Linked DNA regions of Homo sapiens: region 2 is linked to region 1. The links come from fine-mapping of genetic effects on gene expression. A gene starts in region 1. The other region holds a variant in brackets. All regions are shown on one strand. Distances are from middle to middle. Region 1 holds the start of C2orf49-DT (C2orf49 divergent transcript). Region 2 overlaps TGFBRAP1 (transforming growth factor beta receptor associated protein 1).

What was found. PIP is the estimated chance that this variant, and not a neighbour inherited with it, causes the effect. A credible set is the group of variants that fine-mapping cannot tell apart.
Region 2: its variant is the best candidate, but not a certain one, in a credible set for the expression of C2orf49-DT in subcutaneous fat (FUSION, PIP 0.82).

The regions. Positions count from the first base shown.
Region 1 is chr2:105,334,712-105,339,044 of GRCh38, reverse strand. It overlaps C2orf49-DT (C2orf49 divergent transcript), which reads left to right and starts at 1,552. Exons shown (of 2, transcript NR_187479.1): 1 at 1,552-3,886; 2 at 3,977-4,333. It overlaps C2orf49 (chromosome 2 open reading frame 49), which reads right to left and starts at 1,505. Exons shown (of 4, transcript NM_024093.3): 1 at 1,359-1,505. The coding sequence starts at 1,457. RefSeq lists enhancers at 1,413-1,462, 1,473-1,862.
Region 2 is chr2:105,299,803-105,304,203 of GRCh38, reverse strand. The region is part of intron 2 of TGFBRAP1 (transforming growth factor beta receptor associated protein 1); the gene reads left to right. Among named protein-coding and RNA genes, the nearest start is that of TGFBRAP1, 28 kb to the left of the region's middle. The variant TA/A (reference allele first, on the strand shown) is at 2,194.

The sequences.
Region 1 (4,333 bases):
CAGTAGCAGTACATCATTAGAAAAGCCTGCACCCCATTTTCACTGGTCCTTTCAAGTAAGCTTCCAGTCATTGTCCAACCATCTCTATCTAAATCACCAAATTCTTCCTCATTTTCCAATTTGTTCTTGACATCATGAAAAACATAGCATAAGCACAGGAGTAGTCATGAAGACAGAGTTTGGATTTAAGAAGGAGAAATGAGAATGGAAATGAGATCACAGGCTCTTCAATTTCAACTCAGAAAGGCTTGAAAACATTTGTGTTTAGTACCACCGACAAGCCTATATCCTCTAACAAAAACTAATAAAAGCACATTTTACTTCTCTTTCGTATATTAGACTCATCTATTTTTAGCCCGTACTCGCTCAGAAGTAGGGGAAACTACCAGGATTCTCTTGGACAACGTTCCCAGAGAATTCATAAGCCCATTACTTTGGAAAGTATTGCCTTAGGACAGTGGTGGTCAAAGCATGCTTTCTGGGCCAGCAACAAGCTCGTTAAAAATGCAAGATTTCGGGCCACATTCCGGAACTACTGAACGAGAAACTGAGGACGGAGCCCAACAATCTGTGTTTTAGCAAGTCCCTCGACTCATTCTTAAGTACCTAAAAAGTTTGAGAACCACAGGTAAAAACTTACTGACATAATTAAGCTCTACGTGGCAAGAGGACCTGAAATTCAACAAAGATAGGGTACTAAGGGGAAAGCCATATGAAAAACAACAAAATACGCTACATAAACCCCAAGGAAACTTCCAGTAATTCTCTATCACTTAAAACATCACTTTTTTCCTTTCTCACTTTTCTCCTATTATCAGAGGCCACACCAGCTGGAAAAGAGCACGCACTACATGGAGAGCCAGGAGCCCTGAATTCTCCTCCCGGAAGTACCATTTACAGATGTTGTGACCTTAAACAAGTCACTTCATCTCTCTGGAACTGTTTTTATCATCTTTAAACGATTAGAAGGTGTGGAATGGACGGTTTCTCAGATGCTTTCCAGTCCTGACAGTCCATGATTTCTACATTCCATGTCTATTCCACGCTTCTTTCTTCCTCAGGTCGGGGCTTACACACAGGCAGGGGGTGTCGCCTGGGACTCCTCTTTACAAGCCATCGGGACTCAGATAGATAAGCCCTATTTCCCAAGCATTCCTGATATTCTACGGACGTCTCATTTTTGGAGAGGGGGCGAGGAGCAGGAGCGAGGAGACAGCTGCCTGGTCTGTGTGGGTGGAGAGTGACACAAACCCGGCGGGAGTGTCCGTGGTTGCCGAGGGCTACTTAAGGCAAGCTCGGGTGCAAGCGCCTCACCTGGGAAGGCCCACCCGCCCACCCTCCGATCCGGCGCGCCCAACCTGCTCCAGAGTGAGGAGAAGGAACTCCTGGGACAGCAGCTCCGGGTGCAGCAGCAGTTCCGAGTCCGTGCAGCTGCGACCGCCCACATCCCCCGCCATGGTCGTCGCCAGGAGACCCCAGTCGGCTACCCACAAAGCCCCGCGAAGGAAGCGTTGCGGAAGTGACGTACTCGGGCGGAGACTCGCGTGTGTCGTCACTCTGAGTCGCCGCATGCCGGGCTCCTTCTCTCGCTGCTGGTTCGGGTGTTGGGGCCTGGTCCCGCTTGCAAAAGCTCCCACGGACCAGAGAAAAGAGGAGGATGTCAGACGTAGAAACAAATGGCGTGTCAAGTTTCGCAGGAAGAGAGGGAAGAGTGAAGCTCCGGGAGCCAGCCACGATTAGTCGCGCCTTCTGTGACGTCCAATGGCAGAGGTCAAAGGGATTCCTGGGGCAACCTCGAGGGAAAGAATTCTGGCTCCGAGGGCCGGTGTACAGTGCTTTAAATATGGCAGTGGTTATGTGTGAAATTATCGTGTTTTTCTGTTTAACCTGTTTCTTGTCTCTTCATCGCCTTTCTATATAATGTAAGACCAGAGGCTTTATGTAGTGAATTCCCTGTAACCCCGGCTGCTTGGACAGATAGGTATTCAAGTATTTGTTTCTTGAAGTAATCCTCTGAATTAACTTGCTCACATGTAAAAAATAATAACGGGCTGGGAAACGCCAGTAATAGCCGCCAAACGTTTGTTAGACATTTACAGTGTGCCAGGGACTGCATTTTACGTGTATTATCACATTCCTCAGAACAGCCTAATGAGGTATATATTACTAGAATGCCTATTTTTCAGATGAGGAAACTGATGCATAGAAAGGATAATTTACTCAAGAGCGAGGAAGTAGCAAGCATAAAATCCAAGTACATTTTTTTCTGCATGTATTAATAGGTACAATGAAGTAACTTTTTAAATTGCTGTAGGTATCAATCATAGTCTTAATTCCCAGTAATTCACTTACTAAGAAATATTTTCTGCTTCTCTTTCATCATTCATGGGAGAGATACATATCCCTAAATATTTTGCACATTTAAAACTTAAACTTGGGTATGGTGGCTTATGCCTGTAATCACGGCGTTTTGGGAGGCTCAGGTGGGAGGATTGCTTGAGTCCAGGAGTTCCAGGCCAGCCTGGGCCACATAGTAAGACCCCGTATCTACAAAAAATAAAAAAAAAATTAACCGGGCATGGTAGTGTCTCTGTAGTACTAGCTACTCGGGAGGCTGAGGTGGTAGGATCACTGGCGCCCAGCAATTCCAGCCTGCAGTTAGGATTACCACACTGCACTTCAGCCTGAGCGGCAGAATGGGACCATGTCTGAAAAAATAAATAAAAAATAAAACTTGCAGGTATGTTCTGAATGTTTATTGTATGCATCCTCTATGAGGTATCATTTTATTGGAAATTATTGCATTGTCTACAAAAATATGAAGAACTCTGAAGATGCCAAAAGATAAACCGTGAAAGAGTACTAGAAGTGAGCTCCTCAAAAAGATAAAGCTGAGAAGTGTTTCCCAATTTTTCTTACTCATTTATGTATGTAATACTTTATGTCTAGAAACTGAATTTCAGAGCTGGGAGGGAACTTAAAAGTTAGTCCAGTTCTTTCATGTTAGTGCCAAGAAAGCTGATCAGAAAGAGATTAAATGACTTGCCCAAAATTGAATAGTCTTAAATCTGAGCTGAGGCAGGCGTCTGAATGTCTTAAATTGGAGTTAAATGTATTAGCGTCATAGTATTAACATCATCATATTCCATATCTCTCAAATCTGATTTGATTTTCATTACAATAGAGAAATAAGTGTGATTAGTATTATCCCCATTTCCTTCACCGGGAGGCACATTGTTTTAGTATCAAAAGCAGCTACCTTGGGAGAATCCGGGGCTAGAAACCTGACTTCATTTCAAGTTTTACTCTTGTTGCACCAAAACCTTGGGTGAGTTAGTTTCTCAGCCTCAGTCCCCTCATCAGGAAAATGCTGTGTTAGCACTTTCTGTGAAGAATGATCAAAGGAGTGGAGATTATGGAGATTATAAACACACTTGACACAGTAAGTGTTTAAGAACTGGTAGCTGATTTTTACAAAGTTATGGGTCATAGAAGGCAGTTTAGAGAAAAGGGCAGGCTTTGGAGTAGCTCAGTTGTATTATAACCTTGGCTTCTTTACTCACCTAGGACATACATTCTCTCTTTAGCTGTAGCTTCCTCCCTTCTGAGATGGAAATTATAAGCCATCTCACAGTGTTGTGAGGATTGGAGCTCAAGTGTGTAAAATGCCTCCTCTGTGGGCTCTCCTTGGAGAGTTCTTGTATCCTATTGATTGTCATCAAAGGAAAAAAGTGGCAGGATGATGGCATAAGTGGGAAGAACCTTGAGTTTAATAGTCTGAAAAAGTGGTTACAGGTTCTTGCTATGCTTTTCCTCTCTGTGGTTTTCTGAACCCATCGCCTAACCTGAAGCCTTAAACTTCATCTGCAAAAATGTTTTGTGGCAGGTAAGATGTCTTTTTTTTCTTCCAGTACTTCCCAGTTTAAAACTAAGAGTACTTCCTTGCTTATAACTAATTCTATTAATATTATTCTAGGTGACTCTGAAGCAGAACTCTTGAGATGGAAGGATTGTCATCTGAGGAAAAAAAATCAAGATTAAGAGAGGAGGAACTAGAATGAGATTCACATACCGTCTCTCCTCCAAGGGAAGGAGAGAGTGGTGATGCCTGCCCACTCCTTCCTGGGCAGAACATTTGTAGCATGGAACATTGGAGAATTTGCAGTCTGCTGACTTTCTGATTTAGGAGGTTGATGGGGAGGCCTTATAATTTGCATTTCTAACAAGTTCTGAGGTGATGCTTCAAGTATGTCCAGGCAGAAGGGCTGCCTCACAGAGAATTCTGCCATACCACATGGGAATTGAAGTCACAGACATCTCTAACCCTCAAGCC
Region 2 (4,401 bases), 35 kb after region 1:
TAGTACATATTTCTAAGTTACAGATACCTAAGAAAACCACAATTCCTAAAAAACCTGACAGTAATTCCTAAATATCAAATATATGTAGATGTGTCATATTTCCCCTATTAGCATACACCATAATCGATGTAAATATATATATACACTTATGTTTAAGTATTTGTATGTTTATTTTTAGTTTGTTTGAATCAGTTTCATACAAGGCCCATACATTGCAATTGATTGATCTGTTACTTTGTTTTAATCTTCAGTTTTCTGCTTCATCTCTTTTTTGCTTTTCTTTAATTTTTTTTGCTGAAGAAATTGGATGGTTTCATGTATGGTGTCCCACAATCTGGATTTTAATGATTTCATTCCCATAGTATTGTTTAACATGCCTCTCTGACCTCTGTGTTTTCTTCAAATAGTAATTAGGAGATTCAGGGTTTTTAAAAATTTGCTTGTTTTGTGGGGAGGCAAGACCACTTCCTAGTGGTGGAGTACCTCTGTCAAGGTTGCATAATGCCTTCATCGCTCTGTAATGTTAGCAGCTGTTGACAGTTACTGCCCAGATCAATTCAGTTACTCAGTTTTCAATATGGGGATCTCTTCTGTCTTACAGAAATGGCTTTCTGAAAAGTATCATTATAAACTCGTGGACGCAAATGTATGTGATGTGCTTGGTTTCATCCATGCCTGGTGGGAGTTTATTCAGGTGGACTTGTCAGTCCCTTTTTCATGCCACTAGAAATCTGATTGCTTCCTTGAGTTTCAGGATATTCCTAGATCACCTCGTACATTTCTTGCCCTGGGTCTGGTTTCAGCCATTTCTCCAAAAAGCCCTGATGTTTACAGACCACAGTCTGGGAGCCAGAGGTGCTTACTGCTCATTGTTTCTAGGCCCTTCTTTCAGTAGACAGTGCTGGGAAGTATGTCTTTTTTATTTTATTTTATTCTTTTAGAAACGAGGTCTTGCTATGTTGCCGAGGCTGGCCTTGAACTCCTGGGCTCAAGCAAGCCTCTCGCCTCAGCTTCCCAGGTAGCTGGGACTATAGGCGTGCACTACTGCACCTGGGTAAAGTATATGTTTGTAAAGATAATTTCATTGTGAAATCATGTTGATAGAACCAATCCATCATTGTACCTGTATCTCCTTTCAACCACACCAAAGATCTGACTTCTCTACTACCTCAACATAATTACTCCTTTGATTTATCCCACAGTACATACAACAGAGTAACAGGACCAGCACTACCGCTCCCACAGTATAATTATTGGAAACTCTGATGGTTTGTGGTTCTTTCTGTCCTTAGGGTATTAGAAATCTAGTCAAATTACTGTGTTTTAAAGTCACTTGGAGTAGTTCTCCTCTGTGTGGTTATGCCATCAACTAGATTTATAGTTAGATTTGTTTGTTTCATTTTACTTTTGATTTTTAGAAGTTGCTTTGGTGTGTTTTTTATTATATAAATGTTTACAAAGTTCCAAGACAGACGGATACAGCAAGATATCGTCAAAGAGGTCTAAGCTCACAGCTAGCTTTTTACCAAGTCTCCCTCTCCCATAGGTAACCTTTATTTTTAGGGTTTATTCTTTCATTTTAAAATACAACATAAATATGTAAATATTTGTATCTCCTCCTTGGCTAAATGGTAGAGTACTTTTCCTCACCTTGCTTTTTTTTTTACTTAATATACTAAAGTGATCACTTCAGAGTGTAGAGGTATTCCTCCTTCATTTTATAGCTGCGCACTATTCTGCTGTGTGGAGGTACCATAATGCGTTCCATCTATTGATGGACATTTGGGGTCTTTTTCAGTCTTTAGCTATTCCTGGGGACTTATATTTGTGTGTATGTGTGTGTGTTTTCAGTGTATCTGTTGGAAAGCTTTCTAGAGATGAGATAGCAGAGTCAAAGTATAAATGTGAGGTATTGCGATAGTCTCCCTTGATAAAGGTTGCACCATTTTATTTTTCCCCAGCAACCTATGAAAGTACCTGTTTCCCTCCAGCTTTGCCAACAGAGGATGTTGTCCAAACTTGTGTGTTTTTGCCAGTCTAGTACATGAGAAATGGTTTTTCAGTGTAGTTTTAATTTCCATTTCTCTTGTTTATGTGCATGGTTGAACATTTTTCACGTTTAAAAGCCATTTACATTTCTTCCGATGGGAATTATCTCTTCTTATCTCTAGGCCTTTTTTTTTTTTTTTTTTT[TA/A]GTATTCTTTATATGTTTGAGATACCAACTTCTCTGTTATATAAGTTTCAGGTATTTGTTTCCATATTTTACCGTGAAAAAGCTTTTTGAAAAATTTCGATATGATCTCACCAGGTGTGGTGGCATGTGCTTGTGGTCCCAGCCACAGGAAGCTGAGGCAGGAGGACCGCTTGAGCCCAGGAGTTGGAGGCTGTGTTGCTCTGTAATTGTGCCTGTGACTAGGCACTACACTCCAGCCTGTGCAACACACCAAGACCCCATCTCAAAAAGAAAAAGAAAATTCTGTATAATCAAATGTATCAATATTTTCAGGTATTGCTTCTTGAGTTTGAGTCATAATTAGGAAGATTTCTCTGTCTTCCAGGTTAAAGACAAATTCACCTGTGTTTTCTTCTAGTACCTGTGTGGTTTTTTTTCTTTTTTTTGAGAGAGTCTAGCTCTGTTGCCCAAGCTGGAGTGCAGTGGCACAATCTCGGCTCACTGCAACCTCCACCTCCCGGGTTCAAATGATTCTGCTGCCTTACCCTCCCTAGTAGCTGGGATTACAGGTGGGTGCCATCATTCCTGGCTAATTTTTTGTATTTTTTTGTAGAGACAGGGTTTCAGCATGTTGGCCAGGCTGGTCTCAAACTCCTGACCTCAAGTGATCCACCCGCCTCAGCCTCCCAAAGTGCTGGGCTTACAGGCCTGAGCCATCGCACCTGACCAGTTTCATTTCTTATACTGAAGAGTGTAAGGAATACATTCAATTTTATCTCTTTAAATTATTTATTTATTTATTTATTTTTGAGACAGGGTATTTCTCTGTCACCAAGGCCAGAGTGCAGTGGCACAATCTCAGTTCACTGCAACCTCCGCCTCCCCGGTTCAAGTGATCTTCCTGCCTCATTCCCCTTAGTAGCTGGGGAATAGTACCCGCCACCAAGGCTGGCTAATTTTTGTAGTTTTTGTAGCAACCGGGTTTCACCACATGGCCCAGGCTGGTCTTGAACTCCTGGACTGGAGTGATCTGCCTGCCTTGGCCTCCCAAAGTGTTGAGGTTACAGGTGTGAGCCACTGCGGCCAACCTCAATTTTATCTTTTTTATATAGCTGTCCAGTTATCCTAACAAACTGATTAAAGAGTCTATCTTTTCCTCACTGATGATGGCCTTTAATGTACACTAAATTTCCTAATGTATTGGGTCTGTCTCTGGATTTTCTGTTTTATTCTGTCAGTTCATTTGCCTATTCACGTGCCAATACCTAACTGTTTTAGTTATAAAGATTTGATAGGCTGGGCGCAGTGGCTCATGCCAGTAATCCCAACACTTCAGGAGGCCGAGGCAGGCAGATCACCTGAGGTCAGGAGTTCGAGACCAGCCTGGCCAACGTGGCGAAACCCCGTCTCTACTAACAATACAAAAATTAGCCAGGCATGGTGGTGCATGTCTGTAATCCCAGCTACTCAGGAGCCTGAGGCAGGAGAATCGCTTGAACCCGGGAGGCAGAGGTTGCAGTGAGCCGAGATGGTGCCACTGCACTCCAGCCTGGGCAACAGAGCGAGACTGTCTCGGAAAAAAAAAAAAAAAAAAAAGATTTTACTCCATTATCCTATGTTGGTTGTAGTGTTAGGATTGATGGGAAATAATAGTCAATAATCTTTATGATGCACTGTGTCTCAGCTACATGGGCATCTGGCTAAATGAACCAACCTTCTTAAGTTTTGTTCTGCTTGTAACTGGCACAATTATAAGCAAATTGAAAGATTACTTGTAACGCCTATCACACAGTACCTATATACAGATTCTATCTTCAGCATAGTAACCACCAGACTTTAAACCAGAGGTTTATAGTCTTAAACCCTGTCCTATGACAGTGCTTCTTGAAGAAGGTAAATAATTCAGCTACTCTTCACCACACATGGTTCCCTCTCCTTCTCCCAGCTTAGATAAGGGGGTGGATGAAACATAAAGGGTACACGATTGAAAATAATGGTTTTAAAAGGTGTGCCATTTACACATTTGTTACATGTGCCTGTTGACAGCAGTTGCACTCCTGCAGCACTACAGAAACAATAGACTTTATCACCTATTTGGCAAGAATAGAATTAGTTTGTGGGTGTTGATCACAGTCCCCTCTGTTCCCAAGTGGGGCTTCGAGGCTTCTCCTAGTGCTTGTCCTGGACTCCTCTTTTGCCAGTTACTGCTTGCTTTTTTATTCTAGTGA